Regions from separate parts of the Homo sapiens genome. Here region 1 is linked to region 2. A link means that fine-mapping ties the variant in region 2 to the expression of a gene that starts in the linked region. Tissue or cell type: sun-exposed skin. Region 2 holds a variant in brackets; the other region holds the start of a gene. All regions are shown on one strand. Distances are from middle to middle.

Region 1 (2,500 bases), 560 kb after region 2:
AGGAAGAGAGGGAGGAGAGAAGGGAGGAAGGCAGGCTGGCTTTTTATGGTATTATTATGAAATCACCAGATTACATTGTTAAGTGAAAAAGGCAAAGTGGAGACCCCGGAGCTACATAAGCTACCACTTGTGCTAAAGGGGAAAAATATAATATTTGCTTTTCTCTGCATGGAAAGTTTTTGTTGTTGTTTCTTTGTTTTTGAGACAAACAAAATGCTGTCACCCAGGCTGGAGTGCAGTGGTGTGATCTCAGCTCACTGCAAGCTCTGCCTCCTGGGTTCATGCCATTCTCTCCTGCCTCCTGGGTTCATGCCATTCTCTTGCCTCAGCCTCCCGAGTAGCTGGGACTACAGGCGCCCCCCACCACGACCGGCTAATTTATCGTATTTTTTAGTAGAGACGGGGGTTTCACCATGTTAGCCAGGATGGTCTCCATCTCCTGACCTCGTGATCCGCCCTCCTTGGCCTCCCAGAGTGCTGGGATTACAGGCGTGAGCCACCGCGCCCGGCCAACCTGGAAAATTTTGCAAGGAAATACAGAAATGGGTAACCTCAGGGGAACACTGAGTACATAGGCTGAGGGTCAGGAATGGGAGACTTTTATCTTGTAATGTTTGGATGTTTGAATTATGTGAATGTATTACCTGTTTTAAAAATAGATATTTTAAAAACACACACATTGGGGCAATCAGGAATGTATGGGGTGTGGTTCTGTTCCACAACTCCAAGGAGGTAGACAGGCATGTTTTACACCAGTTCAAGATGTACATTTATGTTTTATGTACTTTTCGGTAAATTGTATTTATTCCACAATTGAAAAGAACAAAAACCCTAGCGACTCATGGAGTGCTGCCGTGTGCCAGGGTGGGCCTGGCCCCAGTCCCTTGGAACCCTCAGAAGGAAGAAGTCCAGACAGGTTCTCTGGGCCCTTCCTTGCTGGGCAAGCACTGAGGTGGGAGTGGAGCATGGACCCCCTCAGTCTGGCGCGGTGCGAGGCTGGCCTGGCTGGCAGCGCCTCCCGGCGGCACTGTTGCCCTGTCCGCAGCTGTAGCGTCTCCTGTTTCCTGGGCGCCTCTATTCCATTGTTGGCCGAGGGGGTCAGGACCCGCCGCCTTCTGCATTATTGATGGTCCTGTAAGGCGGGCACCTCGGGGAGTAGAGCCTGTAGCCCCTGCGAGAGCAGAGCCGGGTGGTGCACTGCACAGAAGGTCACCGCGGGAGGCCAAATCCCCGGGGAGGGGAAAGGACCTGGGCGTCGGGAAGCCCGTCTCCTTTGGGCCAGCCATGGGCAGGAACCAGCGCAAAGCGCCCCAGCGCCTGGAGAGGCCCGGGAGGCCGGCCTCAGGGGAGCAGGAGTCGGGGTCGGCCAGCGCGGATGGCGCGCCCAGCCGGGAACGCCGTTCCGACCGCGGGCAGGCGGACAGGGCGAAACCGGCGGCCGAGCCTGCCACCGCCGGGGGCCAGGGAACCCCTGGTGGCCGCAGGAAGCCCACTGCAGAGGGGAACGGCGGCTGCAGACGCCCAGGGGCTGGGCTGTCCCCGAAAGCCCAGGAGAGGCAAAGCAACGCGCAGCGTCAGGGACGCGGGCCCAGGGGCGGCCGCGGGGGGCGCCTGGAGGAGGGAAGCCTCTCCGGAGGAGAAGAGCTGGGCGGCCGCCGTAGGAGGAAGCGGAAAGATAAGGGGCCCTCGGCTCGGCGGGGCCGCCGGACGCCCAGGAGCCTCAATGGGGACACGTCGGGTGGGGACGGAGGCAGCTCCTGTCCGGACAGCGAAACCCGCGAGGCCCAGGAGAGCGGCAGCCAGCGCGGCACAGCCCGGGAGCTGCGGCCCACGCCGGAGCCTACGGACATGGGCTCGGAAGGGACAAAAACCGGGCCGGAGTCAGCGCTGGAGCCAAGCAGCGACGGCCTGGACAGCGACTGGCCCCACGCAGATACCCGGGGCCGGGAAGGGTCGTCGGGGACGGGGCCCCTGGGAGCCAGCGAGCATTCCGGCGGGGACTCCGACTCGAGTCCGCTGGGGACCGGACCTGGACGGGGCTCTCGGGCAGCTATGGCCTCCAGGACCTTCGAGGACAGCTCGCGGGCTCCTCGGGACACTGGGCCGGCCAAGGACGCGAGCGACAACCGGGCGCAGCGGGGCGCCGAGCCAGAAACAATGCAGGCCTCGACGGCCCGGGCTCCGCGCCACCAGGTCGGAAAGGCGGTGGGGCAGGTGCCAGCGGCGGCAGGCGAGGGCGAAGCGGGAGCCGCAGCAGGAGCGGGGCCGGAGGACCCAGCCCCGCTGGCGGCCCTCCTGGTGGTCCGCAGGCTCCTCGCGAGGCCCCCGCCAGGCGCCGCTTCCCAGGCCGTGGGCCCCCGCCGCGCTGGCCTCAAGGAGCGGCTCCTGAGTGTAGCGCGAGCCCTGGGCCTCCTGCGCTGGCTGCGGCGGCGGCTGCGGCTGCGGCGGCGGCCGCCAGAGGGCGAGGGGCAGGGTACCGGGCCACGGGCGAGCGAGGGGT
Region 2 (2,840 bases):
AGCCACCAAAGAAGGTCCCCATGGGAGTTAGGAGACCCTTATCCTCAGGAACAGTCGGTCTATTACTTGGAAGGTCTAGTCTAAATTTAAAAGGTGTGCCAGGTGTGGTAGCTCACGACTGTAATCCCAGCACTCTGGGAGGCCAAGGCAGGCAGATCATGAGGTCAGGAGATTGAGACCATCCTGGCTAATATGGTGAAACCTCGTCTCTACTAAAAAATACAAAAACTAATAGCCAGGTGTTGTGGTGGGCGCCTATAATCCCAGCTACTTGGGAGGTTGAGACAAGAGAATGGCATGAACCCGGGAGGCGGAGCTTGCAGTGAGCCAAGATCGTGCCACTGCACTCCAGCCTGAGTGACAGAGTGAGACTCCATCTCAACAAAAAAAATTAAAAGGTGTTACTATACATACAGGAATAATTGACTCTGATTATACTGGAGAAATTCAATTTGTTATTAGTTCCTTGACTCTGTGGTCTGCCTCCCCAGGAGAAAGAATTGCTGATTTGTTGCTGTTACCTTACATAAAACTAGGCAGCAGCACAGTGAAAAGAACAGGAGGCTTTGGTAATAGTAATCCAGCAGGAAAGGCTGTATATTGGGTTAATCAAGTGTCTGACGAAAGACCTGTTTGCACAGTAACCATTCAGGGAAAAGATTTTGAAGGACTAGCAGATACTGGAGCTGATGTCTCTATTATTGCTATAAAGCAATGGCCCCTGCACTGGCCTAAACAAAAGGCATCCATTGGTATTGCTGGAGTAGGAGCTGCCTCAGAAGTTTTTCAGAGTTCTTTGATTTTACCATCTCAAGGGCCTGATGGTCAGGAAGGGACAATTCAGCCTATCATTATACCTATTCCTGTCAATTTATGGGGTAGAGACTTATTGCAATAATGGGATGCTGAAATATCTATTCCTGTGGATCAATATAGTAATAATAGTAGACAAATAATGAAAAATGTGGGATATCACCCAGGAAAAGAACTAGGAAAAAATAAAAATGGCCAATCAGAACCTTTAGAAGGACAAACAGATCGGACCGGATTGGGGTGTCATTTTTAGGAGCAGCCATTGTTGAGCCTCCAGTTCCCATTCTTGTGTGGCTAACTGCCAAACCAGTTTGGGTGGAGCAATGGCTGCTGAAACAGGAAAAACTGGAGGCTTTAAAAGAACTGGTGCAGGAACAATTGCAAAAGGGACATATAGAGCCTACTTTCTCCCCTTAGAATTAT[C/T]CTGTATTTGTCATTAAGAAAAAATCAGGGAAATGGAGAATGTTAACAGATTTAAAAGCTGTTAATGCTGTGATTCAAGCCATGGGTGCGCTACAACCATGGCTGACCTCCCCAACAATGATCCCAAAATACTGGCCTCTCATAGTGATAGATCTAAAGGATTGCTTTTTTACCATTCCTTTAGCTGCCCAAGATTATGAAAAATTTGCTTTTACTGTTCCTGCCATAAATAATAAAAAAACCAGCAGATGATCTGGTTGAATGGCTTTTTCTACCTCACAATACAACCAAAACACTCACTCTGTACTTAGATCAAATTGCTGTGCTAGTAGGGCAAGCGAGGCTGCGCACAACAAATCTAATGGGATATGATCCAAATCAGATTATAGTTCCATTAACTAAACAACAAATTCAACAAGCCTATATTAATTCCCAAGAATGGCAGGTTAATTTGGCCAGTTTTGTTGGCATTCTTGATAATCATTATCCTAAGTCTAAAATCTTCCAGTTTCTGAAATTAACATCCTGGATATTGCCTTCTATTACTCAAAAAGCCCCTATTGAAGGAGCCATTACTGTTTTTATTGATGGATCTAATAATGGAAAAGCCTCATTTGCAAGACCTCAACAGCAAGTTTTTCAAACAGACTGCTTCTTTCTGCTCAAAGGACTGAACTTATGGCTGTGATAATAGTGTTAAAAACTTTTAAACAGCCAGTAAACATTGTTTCTGATTCAGCCTATGTAGTGCAAGCCATGCAAAATATTGAATGTGCCTTAATTCGAAATGTGACTGATGGAACAACTTAATCTTTTATTTCATTCTTTACAGAAAGCAGTGCAATAAAGGCATTCCCCTTTCTATACCACTCATATGAGAGCACGTACTAACCTCCCTGGTCCTTTAACTAAACTTAATAAAAGGGCGGATGCATTGGTGTCTGCAGCCTTTGCTGATGCACAAACATTTCATTCTTCAACCCATCTTAATGCCTCAGGCCTTAGAAGAAGATATGGTCTATCATGGAAATAAGCTAAAGAAATTGTGCAACACTGTTCTGCCTGCCAAGTCCTGCATCTGCCACATAAAAGAACAGGAGTTAACCCTAGAGGTTTATCTCCAAATTCCATCTGGCAGATGGATGTAACACGTATTCCTGCTTTTAGAAAACTGTACTTTCGGGGCCAGGCACGGTGGCTCACGCCTGTAATCCCAGCACTTTGGGAGGCCGAGGCAGGCGGATCACAAGGTCAGGAGATCGAGACCATCCTGGCTAACATGGTGAAACCCCATCTCTACTAAAAATACAAAAAATTAGCTGGGCGTGGTGGCAGGCGCCTGTAGTCCCAGCTACTTGGGAGGCTGAGGCAGGAGAATGGCATGAACCCAGGAGGCGGAGCTTGCAGTGAGCAGAGATCGTGCCACTGCACTCCAGCCTGGGCAACAGAGCGAGACTGTCTCAAAAAAAAAAAAAGAAAAGAAAAGAAAATTCTCCTTTGTTCATGTTTCAGTAGATACCTATTCACATTTTACTTGGGCCACATGTCAAACAGGGGAAGCTACAGCTCATGTTAAAAGACATCTTTTATCTTCCTTTTCAGTT

What was found. PIP is the estimated chance that this variant, and not a neighbour inherited with it, causes the effect. A credible set is the group of variants that fine-mapping cannot tell apart.
Region 1: MYO15B starts here. The variant in region 2 is the best candidate, but not a certain one, in a credible set for the expression of MYO15B in sun-exposed skin (GTEx, PIP 0.89).

What each region holds. Positions count from the first base shown.
Region 1 is chr17:75,586,774-75,589,273 of GRCh38, forward strand. It overlaps MYO15B (myosin XVB), which reads left to right and starts at 1,027. Exons shown (of 64, transcript NM_001395058.1): 1 at 1,027-2,500. The coding sequence starts at 1,285. RefSeq lists enhancers at 843-1,676, 1,179-1,248, 1,677-2,500 and silencers at 2,129-2,258, 2,299-2,500.
Region 2 is chr17:75,025,751-75,028,590 of GRCh38, forward strand. No RefSeq gene overlaps it. Among named protein-coding and RNA genes, the nearest start is that of TRR-CCT1-1, 6.7 kb to the right of the region's middle. The variant C/T (reference allele first, on the strand shown) is at 1,237.